Homo sapiens: one gene and its partners. The protein of the gene in region 4 interacts with the protein of the main gene of each other region in a pairwise test. Each region holds a gene or a part of one and is shown on either strand. Other genes may lie near its edges.

Evidence for each region.
Region 1: the proteins of GOLGA6A (region 4) and FAM161B interact in binary tests that used the Homo sapiens proteins (3 or more experiments, as listed by UniProt).
Region 2: the proteins of GOLGA6A (region 4) and CDC7 interact in binary tests that used the Homo sapiens proteins (3 or more experiments, as listed by UniProt).
Region 3: the proteins of GOLGA6A (region 4) and TTC5 interact in binary tests that used the Homo sapiens proteins (3 or more experiments, as listed by UniProt).

Annotation. Positions count from the first base shown.
Region 1 is NC_000014.9:73,933,094-73,940,119, forward strand, and holds part of FAM161B (protein FAM161B), read right to left. Parts: intron 5,020-7,026; coding exon 4,855-5,019; intron 4,609-4,854; coding exon 4,509-4,608; intron 2,996-4,508; coding exon 2,856-2,995; intron 1,302-2,855; coding exon 1,163-1,301; 3' UTR 1-1,162.
Region 2 is NC_000001.11:91,517,845-91,524,870, forward strand, and holds part of CDC7 (cell division cycle 7-related protein kinase), read left to right. Parts: intron 1-688; exon of another isoform or gene 689-831; intron 832-2,285; coding exon 2,286-2,435; intron 2,436-6,196; coding exon 6,197-6,591; 3' UTR 6,592-7,026. UniProt on the Homo sapiens protein: Kinase involved in initiation of DNA replication. Phosphorylates critical substrates that regulate the G1/S phase transition and initiation of DNA replication, such as MCM proteins and CLASPIN.
Region 3 is NC_000014.9:20,302,934-20,310,084, reverse strand, and holds the start of TTC5 (tetratricopeptide repeat protein 5), read left to right. Parts: upstream 1-4,133; 5' UTR 4,134-4,147; coding exon 4,148-4,198; intron 4,199-7,151. UniProt on the Homo sapiens protein: Cofactor involved in the regulation of various cellular mechanisms such as actin regulation, autophagy, chromatin regulation and DNA repair.
Region 4 is NC_000015.10:74,072,542-74,079,567, forward strand, and holds part of GOLGA6A (golgin subfamily A member 6A), read right to left. Parts: intron 6,149-7,026; coding exon 6,068-6,148; intron 5,213-6,067; coding exon 5,174-5,212; intron 4,913-5,173; coding exon 4,862-4,912; intron 4,762-4,861; coding exon 4,680-4,761; intron 4,584-4,679; coding exon 4,477-4,583; intron 3,445-4,476; coding exon 3,358-3,444; intron 3,250-3,357; coding exon 3,142-3,249; intron 2,950-3,141; coding exon 2,862-2,949; intron 2,461-2,861; coding exon 1,952-2,460; intron 1,676-1,951; coding exon 1,607-1,675; intron 277-1,606; coding exon 201-276; intron 1-200.

The DNA of each region.
Region 1 (7,026 bases), on a different chromosome or scaffold from region 4:
AATTTGTTAATGACATGCATAATCACATAGTACATAGACTGTGTTCATGGCAATTACTTGTATTCTTAGAATGCCAGTTTTTGCTTCATGCAGCCATTTATATTAGAGCAGTGGTTCTCAGCCAGGCACATTTTTGCCCCCTGGGGATATGCAATATCTGGAGACATTTTTGGTTGTCACAGCTGGGGAGAGGGGTACTACTGGCATCTAGCAGGTAGTGGCCAGGGATGCTACTAAACATTCTACAATGTACAGGACAGTTCCCTTCCCCAACCCTCAACAAAGAATTAGGTGGCCCAAAATATTAATAGCACTGAGGATAAGAAATCCTGTACTAGAAGTTGTAAGTTTTTCATCCCCCATGGGCTAGATCTGATATGCAGATGTATTTTATTTTGCCCATACAATATTTCTAAGTAATTTTTAAATTAGTTGATAGCATACAAATTTCTGGCTTGATGAAAATGTAGTTGATGTAGTAACTCTGAGCCTATATTCCAGCAGGATTTGATACTTTCCAGTGTCTACTATCTCCTACTGTCTACACCCACTCCATGGACGCATTTATGTTTCTGCACTAGCCCCTTATAGGCATTTGGGCCTGTGCTCTCTTTTCTGTACCTAATTCTCTAAGTGTGAGGCACAAAGCAGGAACCCTTAACTTTAGGCTACCATCCCTCCACCTGAGCCTCCCCACTTTGATTTCCTTGAACTATTCTCTGTTATCTGCTGCTCTTTTTTTTTCTCAGACAGAGTTTTGCTCTGCTGCCCAGGCTGGAGTGCTGTGGAGTGATCTCAGCTCATTACAACCTCTGCCTCTTGGGTTCAAGTGATTCTCCTGCCTCAGCTTCCCAAGTAGCTAGGATTACAGGCACGTGTCATCACGCCCAGCTAATTTTTGTATTTTTAGTAGAGGTGGAGTTTTGCCGTGTTGGCTGGACTGGTCTCAAACTCCTGACCTCAGATGATCTGCCTGCCTCAGCCTCCCAAAGTGTTGGGATTACAGGCGTGAGCCACTGCGCCTGGCCTGTTAATCTGCTACTCTTCATTTGTCCATCCTCTAACAGTAGCCATGACTCAAAACCCAAGTTTTCCCTGCCTTGACTCAAACCCAAGTTAGCTGCTTAATATTTTTCAAAAGCAGTAATTTTAAGTGTAGTGATTAAGCAAGTGATACGAGATTTTCTGGTGACTGATGAGACAGCTCCTCCAGTACTTTCCTGGGGCTTGCAGGCTGTTCTAGAGATCCTTCTAAACCCTGCTCTGGATCTCTGATGCTGAGTTTTGTAGTTTCTTGGAACCTGCAGAATAAATTAAAACATGAAAAACAAAAAAAATTTTTTTTTCAGACAGGGTCTCACTCTCACCCAGGCTGGAGTGCAGTGGCATGATCTCAGCTCACTGCAGCCTGGACAGCCCAGCTGAAGCAACCCTCCCACCTCAAGCAATCCTCCCACCTTAGCTTCCCAAGTAGCTGGGATTATAGGCACGTGCCACTGCACCCAGCTAATTTTTTTTTTTTTTTTAACTTTTTGTAGAGACAGGGTTTTGCCATGTTGCCCAGGCTGGTCTCAAACTCCTGGGCTCAAGCGATCCACCCACGTCAGCCTCTCAAAGTGCTGGGATTACAGGCGTGAGCCACCGTGCCCAGTCTGAAAAAAGAAAGTCTTAAAGCACTGTGTAAGGTTTAAGAACGGTCTCTCCCAGCACTTTGGGAGGCCATGGCAGGTGAATCACGAGGTCAAGAGATCAAGACCATCCTGGCCAACATGGTGAAACCCCATCTCTACTAAAAATACAAAAAATAGCTGGGCGTGGTAGTGGACACCTGTAGTCCCACCTACTCAGGAGGCTGAAGCAGGAGAATCGCTTGAACCCGGGAAGCGGAGACTGCAGTGAGCAGAGACTGCAGTGAGCCAAGACTGCGCCACTGCACTCCAACCTGGCGACGGAGCAAGACTCCGTCTCAAAAAAAAAAGTCTCAACATTATTACTATTTTATATGGGATGTAAAGGAAAATTTCTAGGGGTATAAAACTGAGATAGGAATTAGGGTAGGGGCTGCTAGGATTTAAGATACAAAACAATTGAGAATAATGGAGAGAAGATACTATTTTCTCCCTTTGACTCAATATCAAAATGGGTTATGGAGGGCCGGGCGCGGTCACTCACGCCTGTAATCCCAGCACTTTGGGAGGCTGAGGAGGGTAGATCACGAGGTGAGGAGATCGAGACCATCCTGGCTAACATGGTGAAACCCCGTCTCTACTAAAAATACACAAAAATTAGCCAGGCGTGATGGCGGGAGCCTGTAATCCCAGCTACTCGGGAGGCTGAGGCAGGAGAATGGCGTGAACCCAGGAGGCGGAGCTTGCAGTGAGCCAGAAATCGCGCCACTGCACTCCAGCCTGGGCAACAGAGTGAGACTCTGTCTCAAAAAAAAAATACAAAAAATAAAAAAAAAAAGGTTATGGAGAAGGTGATACTAATGAGCTACCTTTAAGGAATGCTAGAAAAACAGTTTTATAGTTTTATAAGAAGTCAAAATATACATGATTTTTCTTCAAAAATAAAGTAGAAATAGTTTCAGCTCATGAAATTGGAACTGGAATTGGAAAATGATCTGTTTCAAAATGGAAGAAAACGAAACATAATTTGTCAGATTTTATTCACAACTGCATCACTCTCTAAATTCAAATGTGTTACTTGGAGATCTCTGGATTACTTATTAATGTTACATAAATACAGGATTATGATCTCAAAATACCAGTGGCTATTCTAAAGTTTCCTCCCAGTGGTATTACTGGGTATGACAATTTAGAGAGCTGCAGAATGACAGCAACATTTCAGGTTACCTGGGAAAATCCTTGATTTTGGTCTCTTTCTCTTGAACAGCCCGGGTGCCTTGACCCTTGTTTCTCACAAAGTCTTCCTCCAGCCCAGCCTGCTTCAGGGTGTCTAGATACCACTGTTCTGCTTCTTTCTTGGCTAGATCCTGTGGGATGGAAATTAATCTGTTGTAGCTGTCTTATGAATTACCAGACAATTCTAAATTACTTAATCAGTATTGTTACAATACTGCCACAACCACCACCACCCTTATTGTGGGGCATAGATTTGCAAGAAAATTATTTAACCCTTGTTTTCCAGCCTTAATGTGTATATAAATCACCTGAGGTCTTGTTAAAATGCAGATTTCACATTTGGTAGGTGTCAGATGAGGACTGTAATTCTGTATTTCTAACACTCCCCAGAGATGCCAAACTGTTGATTTGGGAGTCACAATTTTGAAAAGCAATGACTTAGACTTTTGGGAGACAAATGAGACCCAGATTTAAAAGGATGGACTAAAAACCTAAGATTTTAAAGCAACAAACCATTATCAGGAACACTAAAATAAAATAGAAAATAAGCTACACCAAGACTCTTAGTGGAAGGACAGATGGTCTGCATGTGGACCAGCAGAATATTATTTTTTGTTTAAGTATTCAAGAACAAAATCATAGAGTACTTTGTATTTTTCCTAGAGAGGTGAAAGATCTGTTGAGATCTGAAGAGTGAGCTTGCTTAACATTAACATAAAGAAGCATGAGATTTTGAACAATGCAGGTTGCTAAGTAAATCCAAGACCATGTGTGCTTATGTGTGTGAGAGGAGAAAGATTTATGGAGGGAGGAGGAAGTGGAGCCAGCAAATGCCTAGACAATGTACTAACTATAAGATGGAGCTAATGCCCTGCCATTGGAACTAGGTCACTATGGAACCCCAACTTGTCTGAAACTGGAGAGGAAAGAGATCCACAGAGCCTAATGCAGTAGAAACAGAGCATCCTTACATCCTTACGGAGATCTCAGCTGAGTCCAACATCCCTAAAAGTCTACAGAGAATATCTTAAAATGATACTCTTCCAGGATACTTCGGGTACACTGCCTATGGGTTAGCCCTGCTCCATAAGGAACACACACTCACACACACATACACATGCATACAAAATAAAAGAAGAAAAAAAAATTTCAGGCTTCCAGCCTGAAAGCCACTTAGTCTAGAGAAAGCCTTGCAGGGTGTTTGTGGGCATCCTAATGCTTGGAGACCTATAAATATACCACAGCTCTAGAGGCTGGGGAGGCCCAGGGCCAGCAGCACTGCCAGAGGAGAGATACCTTTCCAGCACTGTGAACAGTGGCTCCAGAGCATAGAAAGAGCCAAATGGTCCCTGTGTCTCTGGGGTCTAATGCCCAGTCTGATGAAATCTGAATGGTAGACTACAGTGAAAGCTCTAGGAAGTGAAATATCCCTTTATCGATGCCTTTGGAGTCCACTCTTGGATGAAATCAACACAAGCAGCATTCTCTATTGTACTATTTATTTTGGGAAAAGAAGGTAGTAGTGAAATTAGAATTTCTGGGCCTCAAGGAAAATTTTAATACCCACATATTAAAATTGTTTTGTAATTTTTCAGAGTCCTTTTATCTAAGGCAGAAAGAAAACAAATGATGGTTTAGTTTTACCTTGGCAACTTGTTCAAAGAGATAGGGCCTTGTTTGTATTCGCTGCTTCATTTCCTCCAGTTCTTTCTTATATTCTTTCGCTCTTTTACGGTCATTGTTCCTGGAATTAGCAAGACTTTTAGAAAGAATTTCATCTTTTCTAATCCAGAATACCCTTCATTTCCAGTAAAGCAGTGTAACTCTCGTGTACACTGTAAATTCCTATCTGACTTGGAAAATCATGACCCTGCTGTGATTACAGGAGCCTACCTACCTCGATAACTCTATTTTGCATTTTCTGGCAATAGGCCAGTGGTCTGTTGGATCCCAAGGCAAGCACCCCTTTTGACACATAGAGGACACTGACCGGTTCTCTTTCAGCTTTGCTTTGAACACTTCCTCCAGGCTTTTATGGGGATCCATGGCTTTTGCACGCAAGGTCACAGATTTGGACATTGCTTGAGACTTCTTTTTGTGTATCTCCAGCCACTGAATACTCTCATCTGCTTTGTTCTTTTTTTCAAGTGCACTTCTAAAGGAAGGAGGCAGAAAAAGAGTATAGATTACCAACCTGGGTATACTGAAAAGCAATCTTAGGCCAGGTGTGGTGGCTCACACTTGTAGTCCTAGCACTTTGGGAGGCCAAGGCAGGTGGATCACCTGAGGTCAGGAGTCCAAGACCAGCCTGGCCAATACGGTGAAACCCCAGCTCTACTAAAAATACAAAAATTAGCTGGGCATGGTGGTGTGCACCTGTAATCCCAACTACTCGGGAGGCTGAGGCAAGAGAATCGCTTGAACCCGGGAGGCAGAGGTTGCAATAAGCCAAGATCGCACTGCTGCACTCCAGCCTGGGCGACAGATCAAATTCCGTCTCAAAAATAATAATAATAATAAAATAAAATAAAATAGCCGGGCATGGTGGCTCATGCCTGTAATCCCAGCACTTTGGGAGGCCGAGGCGGGCGGATCACAAGGTCAGGAGATCGAGACTATCCTGGCTAACACTGTGAAACCCCATCTCTACTAAAAATACAAAAAATTAGCCGGGTGCGGTGGTGGGCGCCTGTAGTCCCAGCTACTCGGGAGGCTGAGGCAGGAGAATGGCATGAACCTGGGAGGCGGAGCTTGCAGTGAGCCGAGATCGTGCCACTGCACTCCAGCCTGGGCGACAGTGAGAGACTCCGTCTCAAAAAATAATAATAAATAAATAAATAAAATAAAGCAATCTTAGTAACCTTTTCTGGAAAGTAAGTTGGTGTTTTTAATGAATGGGGCATGTAATTTACCTCAACTGCCATTTTTAAAAATAATAAAATTCTAGGATTAAATGCACTGGCAGATGAAGCCTTTCCAGCACTAGGGACACAGTGAGTTCCTACCCTAGAAGTGCATTTACTGAACTGGAGAAACGTCAGTTAAAATATCCTTACTTAGGTCGGGCACGGTGGCTCATGGCTGTAATCTCAGCACTTTGGGAGGCTGAGGCGGGCTGATCACAAGGTCAGGAGTTCGAGACCAGCCTGGTCAACATGGTGAAACCCTGTCTCTACCAAAACTACAAAAAAAATTAGCTGGGTGTAGTGGCACGTGCCGGTAATCCCAGCTACTTGGGAGGCTGAGGCAGGAGAATCACTAAACCCGGGAGGCAGAGGTTGCAGTGAGCTGAGATTGCGCCATTGCACTCCAGCATGGGCGACAGAGCAAGACTCTGTCTCGAAAAAAAATATATATATCCTTACTTAAACAGTCCAACATTCAATAGGTCTTCGCCTATCTGGATACAAAATAATACTAATAGCTACCATTTACTGAGCTCCTTATTATGAACCAAGTACCATTACATTTCACATTGTCCTCATAACTGCCTTATGAGGTAAATACTAAATTCCCTTTTTATAGGGGAGGTGATTGAGGCTCAAAGGAGGTAAGCCCCTTGCTCAAAGCTACCCAGCATGCCAGTGGAAAAGCCCCTATTGGACCAGGACCTCTGACTCCGAAGCCTCTGGCCTTGACCACTCTGCTGGAAACAGTGGGCTGGAAGGTGTCTGGGTTCATGGTCCTTTGGGAATACAAATCTGCACATTCAGAGAGAACTGGAAATGAGCCTCCCTCAGTGCAGACTATTTGGGTTCAACTTGTAGCACTTAGTTTGTTCAGTTATCTACAAAGTAATATGTTGAGTTCTTCCAAAAGGAAAATCAACCAAGACTCTTATATTTGGATGTTTATATTCAAATGGACATACTGGGAAGAAGGACATGAAAATTTAATCTGTTAATATGTCAGATTCCCTGTGGCTGGAAAGCAGATGTGGATGTCCTCTATAGGAAGGCCAGCCTCTTTGTTCAGGAGGCCTGTGTTCTTGGGCCCTCAGGATACTGAGCAATTAATTAGCCCTGATTTAGTAGGTCTAACTGAAGTCTGAAGAAGAAAGGAGTATCCCTTGGACCGTAAATACTCTTCTACAATCCCTGCTGTGGGGCTTAACGATCCAAGTAGGTTCTGAGTACTCCCCTACATGCCCCATGGGAAGGCA
Region 2 (7,026 bases), on a different chromosome or scaffold from region 4:
ACCAGCACTTTGGGAGGCCAAGGCAGGCAGATCACTAGGTCAGGAGTTCGAGATCAGCCTGGCCAATATGGCGAAATCCCGTCTCTACTAAAAAGTACAAAAAATTAGCAGGGCATGGTGGCACACACCTGTAGTTCCAGCTACTGGGGAGGCTGAGGCAGGAGAATTGAACCCGGGAGGCAGAGGTTACAGTGAGCCAAGATCGCACCATTGCACTCCAGCCTGAGCAACAGAGTGAGACTCAGTCTCAAAAAAAAAAAAAAAAAAAAAAAGGTGATACAGTAGCCCAAGGAACAGAGAGCAGATAACCTGGTGATACTAGGAAGTCAACAATTAAGAGAGATGTCAACTTTAAGAAAAAAAAAAAAGAGCTTTTTAACATCAAGTTGAGCTAGTCGTAATCTTTAACTACCAGAATTCAGAAGATTAAAGTTTCTATAGTGGGAATGTAAATTAGTACAACCACTATGGAAAACAATTTGGACGTTCCTCAAAAAACTAAAAATAGAGCTACTACATGATCCAACAATCCCACTGCTGGGTATATACCCAAAAGAAAGGAAATCAATGTACCGAAGAGGTATCTGCACTCCCATGTTTGTTGAAGCACTATTCATAATAGCCAAAATTTGAAAGCGACCTAAGTGTCCGTCAACAGATGAATGGATAAAGAAAATGTGGTACTTACACACAATGGAAGTACTATTCAGCCACGAAAAAGAAGATCTTGTCATTTGCAACAACATGGATGGAACTGGAGATCATTATGTCAGGTGAAATAAGCCAGGCACCGAAAGACAAGAGTTGCATGTTCTCACTAATTTGTGGGATCTAAAAATTAAAACAATTGAACCCATAGAGAGCAGAAAGATGGTTACCAGAGGCTGAGAAGGGTGGTGGGAGGGTGTGGGGGATGTGGGGACAGCTGATGGGTACAAAAAATAGTTATAAAGAATGAATTATCCAGCACTTTGGGAGGCCAAGGCAGGTGGATTGCTTGAGCTCAGGCACTCGAGACCAGCTTGGGCAACATGGTAGAACCCTATTTCTACCAAAAATACAAAAAAGTAGCTGGATGTGGTAGTGTGCATCTGTGGTCCCAGCTACTCAGGAGGCTGAGGTGGGAGGATCACTTGAGCCTGGGAGGCGGAGGTTGCAGTGAGCCGAGATCACACTACCACACTCTAGCCTGGGTAACAGAGCCAGACCCCATCTCGAAAAAAAAAAAAAAAGAATGAATTAAGACCTAGTATTTGATAGCACAGCAGGGGGATTATAGTCAGTAATTTAATTGTGCAGTTTAAAATAACTAAAAGAGTACTTTGAGGGGCTGAGGCAGGCAGATCACTTGAGCCCAGGAGCTTGAGACCAGCCTGGCCAATGTGGCAAAACCTCGTCTCTACTAAAAATACAAAAAAAAAAAAAAAAAAAAAAAAAAGAGCTGGGCATGGTGACATGCCTGTAATCCCAGCTACTCAAGAGGCTGAAGCATGAGAATTGCTTGAACCTGGGAGGCAGAGATTGCAGTGAGCTGAGACTGTGCCACTGCACTCTAGTCTGGGCCACAGAGGGAGACCTTGTCTCAAAAAGAAAAAAAGAAAAGAATATAATTGGATTGTTCGTAACACAAAGGATAAATGCTTGAGGGAATGGATACCCTGTTTTCCAGGATGTGATTATTACACACTGCATGCCTGTATCAAAACATCTTATATACCCCATCAATATATACACCTACTGTGTACTCAGAAAAATTAAAGTCTTCACAGTCACAAAAAAATAAAAAAGTAATTTTTTAAAAGTTTCTATAGCAGTAGTTGGTGCTAGTGTCAGCTGAAGAAGAGCTTCTAATGTTCATTACTTTTCACTAAAATGAAAGCACTTTGACCAGTATGGTATGTAATTCTCAAGGATCATTCAGATTTTTTCCCACATAGCTATTTTTGGATTCCTTTTGATCCTATAAAATGTGCGTTTACTTAGTGTTTCCTAGTGATTAAATATCCTTTTAAATTTACCAACACGTTGCTCAAGAAAGAAAACATATTTTGCAGTGAGGATTCTCAGTCCTGGTTGTACATTAAAATCACCTGAGGAACTTTTTTAAAACATTGATGCCTGAGCCCTACTTCAGAACTGTTCAATCAAAATCTTTGGGTCTGGGCATCTGAAATTTTTAAGGCTCCCAAGGTGATTCTAATGCATAATAAATGTTGAGGACTATTGATTTAGATGATAAAATTATAGATTTGAAATTTATTTTTAAAATTTGTCTTCTGTTGCAGCAATTGACATGTGGTCTGCAGGTGTCATATTTCTTTCTTTGCTTAGTGGACGATATCCATTTTATAAAGCAAGTGATGATTTAACTGCTTTGGCCCAAATTATGACAATTAGGGGATCCAGAGAAACTATCCAAGCTGCTAAAACTTTTGGTAAGCAGTTTTGTATTATAGAACCAAACAAAATGCCTTTGATTATCTCCTACAAATCACTTAATAAATTATTGTGAAATTTTCTTTACAAATAAACATTCAGTCTTGATAAAGTTCTCTAATATTAAGTAGAAAATTCTTCAGTTGCTTGAAAATAAATTTATCACCTCTCTATACATATAATCATTTAATCTTATTAAGCACAAAGTAATACACTGTTGCAGTATTTAAAGTTTACCTTTATAATTTTATAAGAATAAGGAGTAAAATCTTAACTCCTTTTAGTTATGGTTTGACTTTTATTACATAAATTTACCTTTTATTAAAGGCATGTTTTACTTTGTAATATGTTTTACTTTTTTATTGTCTTTTAAACATCAGATGCACTATGTCTTGGTACTTAGAGTGTCCTTGCCTTAAATGATCTTAGGCTATACTAACAAGTAAACAGTTAATTATTAATACAGTGTAATAAGGACTAGGGAAGAGAATGGAAATGTGTGTTGTCAGGTTGTGTAGGTTTACGGTAGCAGAGAAGCAGAATGCATAGAAGGCCTTAACTGATGGGATATTATTGTAAGCATATATTGGACTTGGATGTCATCTCCTTAGCCACGCAAGTTCTTCAAGACTGGGATGTGCAGTGTACTTCATAGGGCACATAAGAATTATCTCAGCCTTGCTCTGGCCAACAATCTGAACTCAAGTGCCCATTTAATGTTTATTTTCCACGCTCAGTTATAGTTAATACTTTCCAAGGAATAAGTGGGATTGACTCAGCTTACTACCATACAATACAGAACACCTCAGGAGACAAAGTTTCAGCCAGCCTACCTCAAGAGTAGCTGGGCTGTCTTGTGCTCAACCCCAGGATCAGTGGGTCTTAACCAGAGTTGCATGTCAGAATTATCTGAGAATCTTTAAGAAATACATATGCCTGCCCACTCAGCCTATTCTTGGAAAATATGATTCAGAAAAACAAGATACTTAGGAAGGCTCCAGCCTTGTTAGTTTGAAAAAGCAAGTGATTCTGACTAAGAAACTATGGGTGTTTAAGAACCACTGCAAAAATTACTGCCCTTGCTTATGCACTAGTGCTATAGTCTAATCTACAAGAAAAACTTAGTGGTGGTTGTGAAGAAAGCCTCATCTTAATAGAGGCTTGCCAAAATATGTTTCTACAGTAAAGTCAGTCCACGATTTGTAACTATCTTGTACTTATTGTAAGAAAATTTTATTTGAAGATAATAGGATGAAATAATACAAGGGAAAAAAAGTGACCATGAGTGGAAAGCAAGATTGATATCTTAGAAATGGCATTCTTACATAATAATATAACAAGTATGTTTATTCTCAACTGAGAAAACTTTCATCTACTATTGAATAACTTCGTGAGAGGTTTATGAACATGAAGTTTATCAGCCAATACCAACATATTTTATTGAAGAGCTTGAATCTCCCCCATTGTAATCCAAGTTATAATCAGGGCCAACAATGGAAATACAACATCTGACCCAAAAATACTCTAGATCAAGTGCCATGATAGCAAGCAAGAGCTTTTAGAGATTTATCATTGTAATACTTCTCATATTAAAAAAAAAATAGGGCCAGCCGTGGTGACTCACACCTGTAATCCCAGCACTTTGAGAGGCTTAGGTGGGCAGATCATGAGGTCAGGAGACCGAGACCATCCTGGCCAACGTGGTGAAACCCCATCTCTATTAAAAACACAAAAATTAGTTGGGCATGGTAGCATGCACTTGTAGTCCCAGCTACTCGGGAGGCTGAGGCAGGAGAACCAGCTGAACCTGGGAGATGGAGGTTGCAGTGAGCCAAGATTGCACCACTGCACTCCAGCCTGACGACAGAGCAAGACTCTGTCTCAAAAAAACAAATAATAAAAATAATGCCATAGGACTTGTCTCAGTTGTATTAGTATGACATCTGTAGTTATTTTAGTCTTGATCTTACTATAACTTTGGACTGAGTATAAAAGCCTCAAAATTTCAACAAACACAACTGTGTTCCCCTTTGTAACCTAAAGAAATGACTTGGCTGAGATTAGCAGTGAGAGCACCTTTACTTCTCTTATCTGTCCTCAACCCTTAAACCTGGCTCCATTGTGGGTTGTCATTAAGTACTCAGTGAATTGTGTTGAATAAATTAAAAAGAAAAGTCTTGAGCTGAAACAAATTCCTGACACATAGTAGTCTGTAATAAAATATGTTGACTGATAGTGTTACTTGAAGTTATTTTTCCTGAATATTGTAAATGAACCCTCTTTTTGGTCATATAAAAAAAAGCATATTGTATAACTTGGGGACATGCTATAACATATACTATTAGTTATTTTATGACTTCAGAACAAGCTAATAAAGGAATAAAACTATATGAATATTCCCCCCTGGCTATAATTTTCTAGAGAGAATAGGAATGATAGAATCAGTTTAAAAGTAAAAAAGCATTGGCATATTGTACTCTCAAAGAATTTGGTCTTCAGTAATTGTTTGTTTCCTCCCTTTCCCTCCCCCATTTTTTTCCCTGGCTTAGTACACCAGTCCAGTAGTTAGTTCAGAATATGTAAAGGTAACTTTTTATCATCCACAGTCAGATTAATGACTTTGTTGACAATCTACATTCTCAGAAAGGCATCTAAATGTTGTGGTACTTGTTGTTTCGTACATTTAGTATATTTCTGTTTAATAAGGAAATGTAAGGCAAAAATAATACATGATTGCCATTTGTGTGATTAACTTTTTTTTGCACATCTGATAATAAACCCATCAGGAAGTTATTTCAAATACATTTATATTTTTAAAAACAGATCTAGTTTGTTTATTTGTTCATTCAGAAACATTTATTGGGGCTTTATGTGTGCCAAGTACTATTGCGAGTCTCTGCTTTCACAGAGCTTAAATTCTAGTGAGGGAGAGAACATAAATAAATACTATGAGAAATGAGTGGTACTGAGATAAAAGGAAAAGGGGAGGGAAGAGGCTTATTTAGGATAGGTTGGTCAAGAACAGCATCTCTAAGGATGTATGTGTCATTTGAACAGTTGTTGAAAAGAATAATGCCTTTTTGTCTAGTCCAACAGACATTAACTGACTACCTAATCTGTACCAGGCATAGGCTGGGTTTGGGGGGTTCAAAGATAAATAAGACAGTTCCTGCCTTCAAAGAGCTCAGTCTACTAGGTGGGACAGACATATATAGGATAGCAAAAGTAATAGTAGAACTCTCAAGATACAGTAGAAACTGAAATTGATCAGTTCTCTCTGAGGGTGTCAAGCCTCAGAGGTGATTCTTGATCTGAGTGGTGATGTCAGTGAGAGTGTCCTGGGCACACAAGGGGTGCAGGGCATCCTAGGCAAAGACAGGAGTCATGTAGTCAAAGACATAGAAGCATGGAAAGGAAGTAGAGTGGGGGCGTGGGAGCTGCAGCTAGTTAAAGATTATAGAAGGGTAAGATGAAGCTTGAGAAATTGGCAGAGTCAAGTGAGTGCCTGGCATAGCTTAGTAAGTCACTGCTTTGTACTTACTATCTCCCACTTTATCTCCCACTATGCAATTCAAATACAACTTAAATATAGCATGTGGTGCTCTATCTCATACTGTGTGTGTGTGTGTGTGTGTGTGTGTGTGTCCATGTCTATAAAGCATATGTTTGAACTTTCATGTTTCTCATGAGAGAGGCTTCTGATATATTCAAATAATAAAATGTTTTTTTCTGTTTTTGTTTTTTCTTCTTTTGCTTTTAGGGAAATCAATATTATGTAGCAAAGAAGTTCCAGCACAAGACTTGAGAAAACTCTGTGAGAGACTCAGGGGTATGGATTCTAGCACTCCCAAGTTAACAAGTGATATACAAGGGCATGCTTCTCATCAACCAGCTATTTCAGAGAAGACTGACCATAAAGCTTCTTGCCTCGTTCAAACACCTCCAGGACAATACTCAGGGAATTCATTTAAAAAGGGGGATAGTAATAGCTGTGAGCATTGTTTTGATGAGTATAATACCAATTTAGAAGGCTGGAATGAGGTACCTGATGAAGCTTATGACCTGCTTGATAAACTTCTAGATCTAAATCCAGCTTCAAGAATAACAGCAGAAGAAGCTTTGTTGCATCCATTTTTTAAAGATATGAGCTTGTGATAATGGATCTTCATTTAATGTTTACTGTTATGAGGTAGAATAAAAAAGAATACTTTGTAATAGCCACAAGTTCTTGTTTAGAGACCAGAGCAGGATTAATAATTTATTTTAACATTTTAGTGTTTGGTGGCACATTCTAAAATATAGATTAAGAATACTTAAAATGCCTGGGATAGTTCTTGGGACTAACAACATGATCTTCTTTGAGTTAAACCTACCTAAGTAGATTTTAGGTGGGTTCCTATTAGGTCAGATTTTTAGCTTCCCTAATTACCTTTCACTGACATATACAGAAAAAGGAGCAGTTTTAGTTTTAATTAATTAAAATTAACAGATGTGATGAGGATTAAATGAATCAAAAGACTTAATTTGTAGATTCTTTTAGAGTTATGAGCTAGGTATAGTTTGGGGAAACTCAACCTGGTGCTGGTGCTC
Region 3 (7,151 bases), on a different chromosome or scaffold from region 4:
TCTCAGATGGGGCGGATGCTGGGCGGAGGGTCTCCTCACTTCTCAGACGGGGCGGCTGGGCAGAGACGCTCCTCACCTCCCAGACGGGGCGGCGGGGCAGAGGCGCTCCCCACATCTCAGACGATGGGCGGCCGGGCAGAGACGCTCCTCACTTCCCAGACGGGATGGCTGCCAGGAAGAGGCGCTCCTCACTTCCTAGATGGGATGGCGGCCGGTCAGAGACGCTCCTCACTTTCCAGACTGGGCAGCCAGGCAGAGGGGCTCCTCACGTCCCAGACGATGGGCGGCCAGGCAGAGACGCTCCTCACTTCCCAGACGGGGTGGCGGCCGGGCAGAGGCTGCAATCTCGGCACTTTGGGAGGCCAAGGCAGGCGGCTGGGAGATGGAGGTTGTAGCGAGCTGAGATCATGCCACTGCACTCCAGCCTGGGCACCATTGAGCACTGAGTGAACCAGACTCCGTCTGCAATCCCGGCACCTCGGGAGGCCAAGGCTGGCGGATCACTCGCGGTTAGGAGCTGGAGACCAGCCCGGCCAACACAGTGAAACCCCGTCTCCACCAAAAAAGTACGAAAACCAGTCAGGCGTGGTGGCGCGCGCCTGCAATCGCAGGCCCTCGGCAGGCTGAGGCAGGAGAATCAGGCAGGGAGGTTGCAGTGAACCGAGATGGCAGCAGTACAGTCCAGTTTCGGCTCGGCATCAGAGGGAGACAGTGGAAAGAGAGGGAGAGGGAGACCGAGAGGGAGAGGGGAGAGGGGAGAGGGGAGAGGGGAGAGGGGAGAGGGAGAGGGAGAGGCAGAGGCAGAGGCAGGGGCAGGGGCAGGGTAGCAAATCTTTTTTCTAGATAGGACTCCCCAGCTTCTCTGTGCTTTTAAGTCTCTGAAGTTGTTTTCACATTATCAACATAACAAACTCATTGGCAGTGGGGAGTGGTTTAGAGTCTGGTTTCTTTGTTTCTATTATTTAAAGCATAAGCATTTTATTAGTCTCAATTCCATTGTGAACTGCTGAATTTTCATCCCTAGTGTGAGAAGGTCACAATAGTATTTGTTTCAATAGATAACTCTTTCTCCCTGTGCTGTTTCTCACTGAGCTGTGGTGTTTATGCCTTAAGTACCTGTGTTATATGCTACATGTTGCTTTGAATTCTGGTATTTATGCATATCTGTATATGTAAGTATGTTAATGTACACTGATATTTTGCTGTATTTGCCAGTATGTTTATGTGAAAATTTTGGTCTTGGAAAATGGTGGGTGATGTGTAGCTTGTTATTTGGGTGTGTGTATTTATTTGTATATATTTATGTATTTACCTTCGTATTGTTTGGAGGTGTGCTTATGTCAGTGAACGAGAGTACAATTTGATGCATGTATGTTCAGTCCCTATTTGTATTTAAAAATAACTCACGTTGATGAAGTTATTTTTTAAAGTTAATTTTTTTGGCATTTACAGTCGGTGCTCTGTATCCATAGGTTCTGCTTCTGCAGATTCAGCCAACCATATATCAAAAATATTTGAGAAAAAATAATATAAAAAAATACAAATTAAAAACCAATACTATATAACAACTATTTGGATAGCATTTACATTGTAGGTATTATAAATAATTTAGAGGTGATTTAAAGTATTTGGGAGAATCTGTAGGTTATATGCAAATACCATGCCATTTTATAAAAGTGACATGAACATCCAAGGATTTTGGTATCCATGAGGGTTCCTGGAACCAATCCCCCAAAGATACCAAAGGAAGACTGTATTTTAAAATAAAGCTACTTCTTTACCTTTTTGTCAACTATTGCCTTGGGTTTACTTATTTAGGAATGCACTTCTGCAGAAAGTTTACCAATGTGTTATTGATCTCGAGATTGTATTAAAATAAAAGATTTATTTATTGTTTTCCTTTATTTAGTGAGTATTTCTGACTATTATTATGGGAATTAAATTGTTTATGCATTTATTTATTTAAAATGTAGAGCCATGATAGAAATTTGAAGGACATTCTCAGTAACTTTATGTCCTGTTAGAGGAAAGATTTGAAAGCATACTGGCTGGAGAGGCAGAAGATCTGGGTTCTGGTTTCTACTTAGTTTGAACTTTCTTGGACTTAGTCTCTGTATCTGTAAAATGAAGGACTGAATTAAGTTATCCTTACAGCCTTTTCTAACTCTTAAATTTTAGGATTGATTCTTAATGGTTTAAGATGTGTTAACAATGGAATTACCCTAAATGTCAAATCCCATTGTTTTTTAGGTAATAAAAATTATACTGAAATCATTTGAAGATATATTTAGTCATTGTAGAAAGGCAATTAAATACCCCTGCTTTACATAATTGAAAAGCAAGTAGTGTTTCCTTCACTAGGAATATAGAGTATAAAATCTCTTAAAAATTATTCTTAATGTGCACCAAAATTATTTATTACTGTTTTTTTGAGATGGAGTCTTGCTGTGTTGCCCAGGCTGGAGTGCAGTGGCAGCATCTTGGCTCACTGCAACCTCTGCCTCCTGGGTTCAAGTGGTTCTCCTGTCTTGGCCTCCCAAGTAGCTGGGATTACAGGTGCATGCCACCACACCTGGCTAATTTTTGTATCTTTAGTAGAGATGGGGTTTTACCACATTGGCCAGGCTTGTCTTGAACTGACCTCAAGTGATCTGCCCGCCTTGGCCTCCCAAAGTGCTGGGATTACAGGTGTGAGCCACCGTGCCCAGCCTCGTGTGCACCAAAGTTAAAATGTCTGAGAAAGAGGATGAAAAATTTTAAAGTTTTAGGGCCGGGTGTGGTGGCTCACGCCTGTAATCCTAGCACTTTGGGAAGCTGAGGCGGGTGAATCATGAGGTCAGGAGATCGAGACCATCCTGGCTAACACGGTGAAATCCCGTCTCTACTAAAAATACAAAAAATTAGCCGGGCGTGGTGGTATGCACCTGTAGCCCCAGCTACTCGGGAGGCTGAGGCGGGAGAATCGCTTGAACCTGGGAGGCCGAGGTTGCAGTGAGCCGAGATGGCGCCATTGCACTCCAGCCTGGGCTACACAGTGAGACTCCATCTCAAAAAAAAATTTTTAAAACATCCCTCCCTATTTTACAGCTAACGACATAGATTTTATAGGTTACAATACAAACTATTTCCTTTATGTTGGAAAATGATTTGAGGAAATGATTTTATGTATATTCATGATTTCTGCCTTGAACGTTTTACTTCTTTGTTAGTTTCACAGAATCAGCTTGAAGCTGTAATTAAAACTAAAAAAGTAAAGCAAAACTGCCAGGAATATTACATGACACTTTAAAAGATTTATTCAGAAGTTTAATATATTCACAAGGTACAAACTTTAAAGTTACAAAAAAGGCATAGAGTGAAAAGTCTACCCCAGTTCCCTGGTCACTCATTTTTGCTCCAGCCACTCACTTCTGCTCTTTGTAAGCGATAGTCTTGCCAGTGTCTTGTGTCTCTTTCCAGAGACTATGTAGAAGCAAATAATTTTTTATTTAAAAATGTTTATATTTGAATAGGTGATACATATAGATGGCAAGAAAATTCAAAAGGGCAGGCAGTGAAAATTTTCTTCGCTCACCCACAGTTCCCCAGTTTCTGTGTTTCCCTCTGCAGAGACAGTCATCCTTTCTTATATATCCTTCTGGATGTTGTCTATAAATATGGAGGCATTGTTAGTGTAGAGCATGGTGGTTTTTATGAGCCATCCCAAGTGTAGTATTTATTAAGATAGTGCATTAAAATGATAAAATTAATCATACATAGAAAATTACTGCAAAGTTTGGAAAAGATTGAGTAAAGTAGCTATTGTACTACATGGCTTTCGAAATTTCAAACAACACAGGTGTGCACTTCTTAAACTCTCTTCTTTATGGAGTATTATAATCTTAGTATAAATAAGTAGGAAGACATGAAACAAGAATATAGAAATTAAGCTGAGGACATTTTGTTTCCAGGATCTGGGAAAGAAAGAAGTTTATGAACTCACAAGTGATTGTAGAGCATCTCTGTGGAAATAAATGGTTAAGTCGGTTTGAAGCAAAGCCCTTCTGGGGCAGAAAAGCCTCCAGAACGCCAGATGTCGCTGTGGTTCCGCGGTGAGAGAGGGCGTGCGTCTCTGTGGTTATAAAGTTGGGGGTGGAGTGGCCGGGAGATGATGGCTGATGAAGAGGAAGAAGTCAAGCCGATCTTGCAGAAATTGCAGGTGGGGCCGTAGATTAAATTCTGTATGTGTTTTTGTTACTCCGAATGAAGCAGGGAGTCCAGTTTATGTACTGCCCGTGAATTCCTCGGCACACACGCGAAGCTGCGTGCGTCTGTGTGGTTACTATAACAACCCTCGAGGGTGCAGCCGCAGCCAGCCAGGGAGCCTCGTTGGAACCTCCTGCTGCCGACCTGACTGCGGTTAATTTCAGTCCTGTATGGAAGAAGATTTGTTGCTCCTAACTGTTCATGTACATTTTTAGAGAGGACGTTGTTTTCTCGATTCATCCATAGCGAATAGCATATACATGTGTGTGGCAGATCTGCATGAACTACTGTCACATGTTGTTTTGATCCCTACAAAAGCCATTTAACACCTTTCTGCTTTGAATTTGGCAACAATCACGCTAATGACCTGCACTGCAAGTGTCCTGGTTACTCCCCTTAGGATTTCAGTTTTGATTTCTTTCAACCTGTGTAATTCCACTTTGGGGTCTGATGCAGAGGGGTCCAGACTCCACATAGTCCACAGGTAAGACTAGTCTTTTGGACTTGGTAGGGAGGCGTTAACTAGTTGCTTGGCTCTTTGCCTTTAAGAACCCATGATTTTCCTTACACCTCAGGAACTCAGTTCTTCGTTCTAAGGCAGCCTGTAACTTAAATATTAGAACTATGACAGGCTTGTAACTTGCCTAAAGGTGTTTAACGCACAAATTTAAATACTGGTGAAATTTCTTTGTTCTTGGGTACATTAAAATAGTAACACTTTTTAGAGTGTTCCAGCTGATTTGGATTAACTTCATTTTATTCCCTAACTGTGACTGGCTGAAATCAGAGATTCTCAATTCTGGTTCTATATTAGAAACATTATTTGTGTATATATGTTTGTATATGCACAGAAAAAAATCTGAAAAGGTATACAAATCAGTGGTTATCACTGAGGTTCTTTGGGGTAATTTTGTACTTTCTTTTTTTTACATGTATCTATTTGAATTTTAACAACTTACATGTATTGATTTTGCCATGAAAAAATAAGTTTCTAAAAACATTCAGTCCAGAGGAAAACAAAACCAAACAATAAAACCAAACAACTTCTTGAATGTTTGGTTTAACAACTAAAACCAATCAATAAGCCCTTCTCTAAAACTCTTAATTTGCAGCCATGTTGATTGCAGGACAAAAGGAAATTGGTTGTAATTTTTTATGAGAATTGTCTTTTCCTAGGTTCATTTGTGGTAAATGTCCTAAGCAGCTTGGGAGAGGATACTTCCGTTATCTTGGGGTGGGGTCGGTGCAGGAATGGAATAAAGGAGTGAAGTAGAGAAGAGGAAAAGGATTAGATAATGGTGTTGCTGTTCATGGAGATGGTGGTAAACTTTGATTTCATTGTTAAAGACATTTTAGTGTAAAAAGAGTGTATAAATGGATATTTCTCAAAGTGTGTTTTACAGACAGTTTCATTACAGTCATCTGGGGTGCCTGTTAAAAATGTAGAATTTTGAGTTCTGCTAAACTGTTAAAATCAGAGTCTCTGCAGGCTGGGTCTTGGATATAATACAATAAAATTTGCAGAGGGTGCTAGTCTGTTCCCTTCATTCTGGATAGGATTTTAAATTAAGTATAGCACATATGTATTTGTTAGAACAGGGATAGTTAGTTAGTTAATTCAATCAAGTGTAGTGAATTAGAGCCTATCATGTCCCAAGTCCCGTTCTGGTGCTCAGGTGTAGCTCGAAACAAAACAGATTAAAGGCCTTTCCATCCTGGAGCTTACATTTCAGTGGTGGAGGCAGACAATAGACAATTAATGATAGGCCACATGATTTTAAATAAGTATGAAGAAAAATAAGAGTATGATATAACAGTAGAGGAGAGAAGGAATGGATTCATTTGGGTTGAGTAATTAGGGAAAACCTTTCTGGAATTGATATTTGACCTAAGATCTAAATGATGATGAGGAATAAGTTATGCAGAGATCTGGAGAAAGTGTCCAGGCATAAGGTCTTCCAGGTGGGCTGAGCTTGATGGGTTTGAGAAACTGCATGAAGGCAACTCTGGCTTGAGTATTGTAGGAGAGAGAATGGTGAGAGGTGAAGTTTGTGTCAGGATGGGTGGTGGTAGGTCAGCTCATACAGTCTTCTAGGTCATGATAAGGACTTGGATTTTATTCTGTCTGCAATGGGAAACTATTTGAAGGTTTGTGATATGATGTACGTTTTTTATAAGATCACTCCCACTACAGTGAGGAGAATGGGAGAGAACAGAAACAAGATGACTGGTTAAGAAGCTCTTGCAGTCCAGGCAAGTAATGAAGCTGATGTAATCCAGGAATGGTCATAGTGGGATGGAGACAGGTGGATGAATTCAGGATGTGTTGTGAAGATTGTTGATTACACTCGAAGGGAAGTGATTATATCTTTCTGCTGCTATCTATTTAGTTTCAGGAAAGAATAGGATATCTGTTATCTGAAATGCTTAGGACTCGAAGTTTTTTGGATTTTGGATTTTTTTGAATTTTGGAATATCTGCATATACATAATGAGATAACTTGGGGATGGGACCCAAATCTAAATATGAAACTTGGTGGCTTATGCCTGTAGTCCCAGCACTTTGGGAGGCTGAGGTGGGAGCATTGCTTGAAATCAGGAGTTTGAGACCAGCCTGGGCAACCTACGAGACTCTTTTTTTTTTTTTTTTGAGACGGAGTCTTGCTCTGTTGCCAGGCTGGAGGGCAGTGGCATGATCTTGGCTCACTGCAACCTCTGCCTCCCAGGTTCAAGCGATTCTCCTGCCTCAGCCTCCCGAGTAGGTGGGACTACAGGTGTGCGCCACCATGCCTGGCTAATTTTTGTATTTTTAGTAGAGACCGGGTTTCACCATGATGGCCAGGATGGTTTCGATCTCTTCATGATCCGTCTGCCTTGGACTACCAAAGTGCTAGGATTACAGGCATG
Region 4 (7,026 bases):
CAGTTCATTCATCCTTAGGCAACCTGGTGGCCCCCTGCTCCCAGGAGGTCACCATATTGATGCTGAACTTAGTGCGGACACCCGGTTGGCATAACGACCAGCTGTTCTAAAGGTCTCTTCCAACCCCTCAATCCTATGCTGCTAACAGTCCCCCCTTCCTCCTGGGGCTCTCTCCTCTTCCTCTGAGTGGTCTCCTGTACCTTCTCCAGGGAGAGCCACGAGGCTTAGCTGGGTCTCTAGCTGTTGGTTCTGGTGGCTGGCAGCTTCTAGGTGCTCCTAAGGGGACGGGAAACAGAGTGAGAAGGCACGGAGGTTGCCAGGTCATCCCCCTCGGGGCCCCGTCCTCAGCAACTCCCTCCCCTGGGTCTCCTGCAACTTTTGTCCGGCCATCTCAGCCACCGCTTTGCCCCAAGCTTCCTGCTGCTGCAGCTGGTCCACGAACTGGGTCTGCAGCAGTAACTGCCTGTGCAGCGCCTCCTTCTCAGAGGTCAGCTGCTGATAGGTGGCCATGTACTGCTGCAGGTGACCCAGGTACTAGTCTCGCTGCTGCTGCAGACTCTGAGACTCTTGGCTCTTCAGCTCCACCTGCAGGAAGACCCTGGGCATGAGGGCACATGGCGGCTGGCTTCCAGATTCTGGGCCCATTAATAGGGTAGCGAGGGCACCGTGGGGCTCTGTCACCTGCCCAGGACCCTGGTCCCTTGCTCCAGGCCTAAGAGGCTTCCTCCCTTGCCTAGAACCCCATACCTCCTTCCCCAGCCTCAAATCTCATGTCCTTCTTCCCACCATTTAAACTGTAGGCCACAGACTGGTGGAAAAGCAGAGGGAGCCAACCACCATCTGCTAAGTGTGCTACATGCCTAATGCTTTCCAGGTATTCTCTCATTCAATCCTCAGCACCTCTGCAAGGAAAATGCTAACTTCCTTTTGAAGTCACAGAAACAGAGACTTAGAGATGAACAGTAGTTGAATGGTGACCAGTGGAACCCAGGCCAGAATCCAGTTTGAATCTAAGGAGGCTTTTTTGTTTTGTTTTGAGACAGTGTCACTCTGTGGCCCAGGCTGGAGTGCAGTGGTGCAATCTCAGCTCACTGCAGCCTCCACCACGTGGGCTCAAGCGATTCTCGTGCCTCAGCCTCCTGAGTAGCTGGGATTACAGGCATGCGCCACCATGCCTGGCTAATTTTTTGTTGTTGTTGTTGTAATTTTAGTAGGGGTGAGGTTTCGCCACGTTGGCCAGGCTGGTCTCAAACTCCTGACCTCAAGTGATTCTCCTGCCTCAGCCTCCCAAAGTGCTGGGATTACAGGTGCGAGCCACCGTGCCTGGATAAGGAGCCTCTTGTACCACTGTCTCTTCCCCTGTGATTGGGGGCTCCATGTCTCTAGCTGGGATGATGATGTCCAGACCTGGGAGGAGCCCAGGGCTACCCACCTCTAAAAGTCAGAGGGCAGGAAGCAAGAAACAGTCATAGAGCTGCACTGGAGGGTGCTGGGGTCACCTGCCTCCCAGCTGGAGCTGCCTTTGGCCTGGCACCTCCCCTCCCCAGAGGCTGGTGCCCGCCTCCCAGCCCTTCTTGGATGGGGTGGAGGTTACCATCTCCTTCACCTCGTCTAGCTTCTCCTGCAGCTCCTTTACTTGCTGCTCCAACTGCAGTGCGCTCTTTTTCTCGTTGTTCTGGACAGAGAGAAGCAATCAGTGGCCATCCACTGCAGCTGGAGACACCAGACCTTGGTGTCTGCCTCCCATATCACCAGGAAGGGTGGAGGCAGGTTAGAAAAATCATCCCTTCTCCCCCACAGCCATCAGAGCAGAGCCCGATGAGCTGTAGCTCACAGGTGCCTTTAGAAGTAGCATTTCATGTGAGGGCTACACTGGCCCATTTTACAGGTGGGGAAACAAAGGCCTGGAGGGATAGGGATGAGGGCAGGCTCCCCAGGTGGGGCAACCCACCAGATCCTCGAAGCTGCACTGTGGCTCGGCCAGCTGCTTGTCGAGCTTGTGGTTCTGGGAGAGCGCGAGCCTCTCCTCCTGCTTTTGTAGCCTCTCCTCCTTCTTCCACAGCCTCTCCTCCTGGTCCCACAGCCTCTTTTCCTGCTTTTGCAGCCTCTCCTCCTCCTTTCGCAGCCTCTCCTCCTGTTTGCGTAGCCTCTGCTCCTGCTTTCGCAGCCTCTCACCCTGCTCCTGTAGCGTCTTCTGCTGCTCCCGAAGCCTCTCGTTTTGTTCACACAGTCTCTCCTGCTCCCGCACTCTCTGCGCCTCCTGCTCTCGGAGCATCTCCTCCTGCTCCTGGAGTCTCTGCTTTTGTTCCTTGCTAAGGAGACTCAAGGCCTGATTGTTTTCCACCTGGGACTGGAGCTTTCCCTCCAGACCTTCCACCTCCTGCCTCAGGTGTTTGGCCTCATCTTGTAGCTGTTCCACCACAGAGGTCACTGCTGGGGGCGCCAGGGATGGGGGCTCAGCTGAGAAATGAAGCAGACAATAAGGGCCTCTGGATTCCCCAACCCCTCTACCCACATCCCCCTCAAAAAAAAAAAAAAAACCTCCTCTTGATGCACAGCTCCTCTCAGGCTTCCCAAACTTGGCCTCACTGCTAATCATTCCTCGCACCCAATGGTAGCCAATTTCCAAGCCACTTTCACATAGAGAGCACTGTGGGTGGCTGACAACGGGCACTCCTCCCTCTTTGCTGATGGGGACCCTGAGGCTCATGGAGATGACAAAACTTGCCGTCTCCTGGCACAGACCTCTTTCCCTCTGCCTCAAAGCCCTTCCACCCACCCACCTCCCTGGGGCATTCTAAGCCACCCCCACAGACCTCTGATGCCAGTCCTGCTCCGAGGTCACACCAGCCCCATCTTACCCATCTGGTTTTTGAGTTCGGACAAGCTCCTCTCCAGCTCCTGTATCCGATGTATGTCACGCTTCTTCTCTTCCTTCAATGTTCGAGCCTGCCCAAAGCACAGGGGAAAGGGCCCTGGAGAGAGGGGCTGGTGGCTGGACAGGCTACCATCTCATTCTCTGTCCCCATCTCCACAAAGCCCAGACCCATGACCACCTCTGGCTGTACTATTCCCATTTTACAGATGCCCAGAAAGATCCAGTGACCTATCTAAAGTGGGGGCTGAAGGGTCAGACCTCACCTCCACCGACATTTTCCACATCCTCTCCTGCCACCGGGCCCTCTCTCCTTTTATGTGTTTAGCATATTCGTCTCGCTCTAGCTGGACTTGTTTTAGTGACTCTGTCACCTGCAAGAAATGGGCACAGAAGTTAGGAAGGGCTGTCACTGGTCCTCACCTGCTCCTGGCCACCTGGGGTCATCTTCCTTCCACATCCCTCCCTCTGCAAAGCCTCACCTGTGTCACGTGTGCGTTCAGCAGCGCCCGCTCCTTTATGGTCTGCTGTAACCACCGCTGGAGGACCGCTTCTCTGCAGCTCGAGGACTGGATGGTGAAGAGTGAGAAGTTTTGATCTGGGGAGCTCAGGCAGTGCCCCTTAAAAGGGCTAGGCTCAATATACAACTCGGTCAGTAAAGGTCAAGGCATTTCCAAGCCCGTGGCCTGGTTATTAAAAGAACTCAGTAAAGTTGGAAGGGAGAGGGAAAGAGATAGAATTTACAGCTGGCTAACAGAGGCCCAGAGAGATCAGATAATATTGCTATTGTTATTACTGTTATTACTACCACTGTTTGAACCGTTATGGAGTGCTTCACCAGGTTCCATGCTAGCAATCCCATTTAATCCTCACAACCACCATATGAGACGGTTACTAGGATTACCTCTATTGTGTAGATGAAAAACATCGAGTGTTCAAGGTTAAGTGCTTGCCTAAGATCACTTAGACAGAGCTGGGATTTGAACACCCAGGTCTATCCTATTCTCTAAGCCCATTTTTCTTGCTGGGGGTGGGGACACAGATAGGAAGGGGGAAATTAATCTTTTGTTCACTTTTTGAAAGGATGATACATTCATATAGTCCAAAACTCAGAAGGTACAGAAGGGAGGTGTCTCCAGGCACCCTGTTACTCTCTCCTGAGTTTTTTATGAATGCTTGCAGACATGTTTTTGTATATTATCATAGTACACACACACACACACACACACACACACACACACACACCCCTTTCCTCTCTCTACAGAAATGGTAACATACTAAAGGTGCTCTTCTGTACCTTCACAGAACAACTACCCAATACCCCACCTAGGACTTGGCCAAGGCCACAGCCAGGAAAGGGCAGGGCAGGCACTTGGCCTCTGAGCTCTGCATCCAGTGCTCACTCCCCACAGTGCCCCCCAACTCACCCACAGCAGCTGACTCAGCCCCAGGCTGCCTCTAACAACCATACACAAAAGTAGTGAGAAATGACCATGCTGCCTTCTGGGCAGGACACTCCATCCTGCAGAAGGGACCTTTAGGCTCACTCCTCTATCTGGGAAGCCAGGCTGCCAGGGGATGGGGCAGCTGGTTGGACTCACCCTGTCCTCTTCCTGCTGCTGTGTAGACACAGCACAGAGAGCCCGCTCCAATTCTTGAATACGCTGTAAGGAGTATTGCAGGCGGCCAGCCAGATCCTTGGACTCTTCTGTAATGAGAGAGGTTGAGATGGGGCCCAAAAGACTCCCCCTAAAGACCTGTCAAAGTGCCAGGTTGAAGGATGACGGGATGCCCAGATTCCCACCTTCGAAGTGTCGGGCAGCACGTTTAGTATGGTAAAGGGTGGTCTTCAAGTCTGCCTTTTCCAATGTGAGGATGTTGATTGTCTGGAATTGAACGTTTGGGAGAAAAGCCAAGGAAATGCTGAAAGAGAAGGAAAGAAACATTCTCCAGAGGACAGGAGAAAGCTCCCCACCCTCCACTCACCTCTAACCGCTCCATTTGTGCTTTGTGTATTTCATTGTTTGTTTTCTTTGCCTGTAGGAAGAGGAAGACAGAGCTCTTATCACAGGGAGGCAGAGATGGCACAGCAAGAGACATGCCCCCAGAATGCCACCAATGCCCCAGGACAGGCCCACCCATGGGACCAGGTTATCAGGGACCCTGTGGGGATGGGGTGGAATCTGATGGGTGAGCCTTCTTCCCCAGGCTGGGAGTGGGCAAGATGAGACTGGCGCCTCTGCATCTGAGTGTCCCCCAAACCCAGCAGTCATGTTGTGAGCAAAGAAATCACGTTACTTCTTCCAGCTGATGTTCCACTTGTTTCTTCTGCTGTTTCTGTGGGGAGAGTCAAATTCAGGTGACTGAGAGTGGCCCCCTCAACTCTATTCCCCAGACCTGGAAGCGGTAGGCAGGGTCCAGGAATGGATTTTAAAGGCAACATTCTCAGAACCAATGGCAACACAAACTGGTCAACCCTCTTCAAGCTCCCAAGGACAGAGGACTTGGGTCTTTGTTGGTTTTTGCCCACAGCCACAGAACTCGAAGTCTGAATCTGGATTCTCTTGAAAGGACAGTAACATAAACCCCTAGAGAGGGAGTCTCAGGAAGGCCCACCCTTCTGCCAGCTTGTGATTTAGAAAGGTGCCTTCATTCAACAAATATTTACTGAACACATACGGGCCAGCTACGGTTCTTCACAGCAGATATAGGATGGAAAAGGACAGACAGGAGCCCTTGGCCCTCAGGTTTCCATTCTAGGGGCCTTTAAATCTCAGGCTCTCAGAGCTAACAGAGAACTCTGATGCTCTACCTCCTCCAGAAACACAAGCCCAAGGAGGACAGGTGGCTTGTCCAGACTCAAAGCAAATTAGGGACTGAGTCAGGGCAGAAATACAGGGCCCCTGACAACCAGTCAGGCTAGCGCTTCCCTGAGAGGTGACAACCTCAGGGCGTGTGTGGCAAGGACTGGAGCAGGGGTGTCTGGAGAAGAGAGAGTCGGCAAAGAGGGCAGTGACAGAAGAGCCATGCTGCGTGCTCCTTGCTCTGGGGTCCCTCCAGGTGAGGCCTGGGTGCTCCAGCTCCCCATTTGCCCTTGGCACCAGGGGCCCCCAGCCCCTTTCTTCAGGGCCCCAAGGGGAAACTAAAGCCCAGGATTGGCAGCATGGAATCAGGGGACCCCACTGGACTTACCAATGATTCTATGTTTTCATTGAGTTGACTGATTGTCACTGAGCTTGACTCCAGGGCTACTGCTAGTTCTTGGTACTGGCTCTGAGGCACATGCAGAGAGGAGGAGTTGGAAGAGGATTGTGGGGAGAGGTAGAGAGAACAATCATTAGGGCTGGGGTGTGTGTGGGCTGTCTCAGCTGGCAGAGGGTCACCCAGCCCCCACTGTGAGAGGAGGTTGGAGGGCTGGCCTGCAAAGTCACTGCACCTCAGCCCAGGGCCTCTTACTTCCAGATCCTTCAGGGTAACAGATGATGCAGGAGTAATAAAAATGAGAAATTAAAAAAAAACTTACATGGGAAATAGTTATGTATATGGAGAAAGTATAAAAACAGCAAGGAGCCGGGCACAGTGGCTCACACATGTAATCCCAGCAGTTCAGGAGGCTGAGACAAGTGGATCACTTGAGGTCAGGAGATCAAGATCAGCCTGGCCGACATGGTGAAACTGCATCTCTACTAAAAATACAAAGAGTAGCCAGGCGTAGTGGCAGGTGCCTGTAATCCCAGCTACTCAGGAGGCTAAGGCAAGAGAATCACTTGAACCCGGGAGGCAGAGGTTGTAGTGAGCCGAGATCGCACCACTCCACTCCAGTCTGAGTGACAGAGTGAGACTCTGTCTCAAAAAAAAAAAAAAAAAAAAAAAAAAAAAAGAGCCCAAATCCCACGTGCCTGCTCTGTACGTTATTCCCAGATTACTTTTAAACTTTTAGGCGTCACCATTTCCAAGATAATAAAAGACGCGGGGAAGGAAAAAACCCAATCAATCAAGCAGGTGAAGAAGCAGACAGAAACAGGCTGAAGGTTAATGGCAGCAACATAAAACAAGGCAGAGGCCAAGCATCCCCCAAGCCAGAGAAGCCTCAGGGCCATGCACAGCTGTAGACAGCAAGCCAGAGAGGGGTCTTGGCACTGCCTCACCTT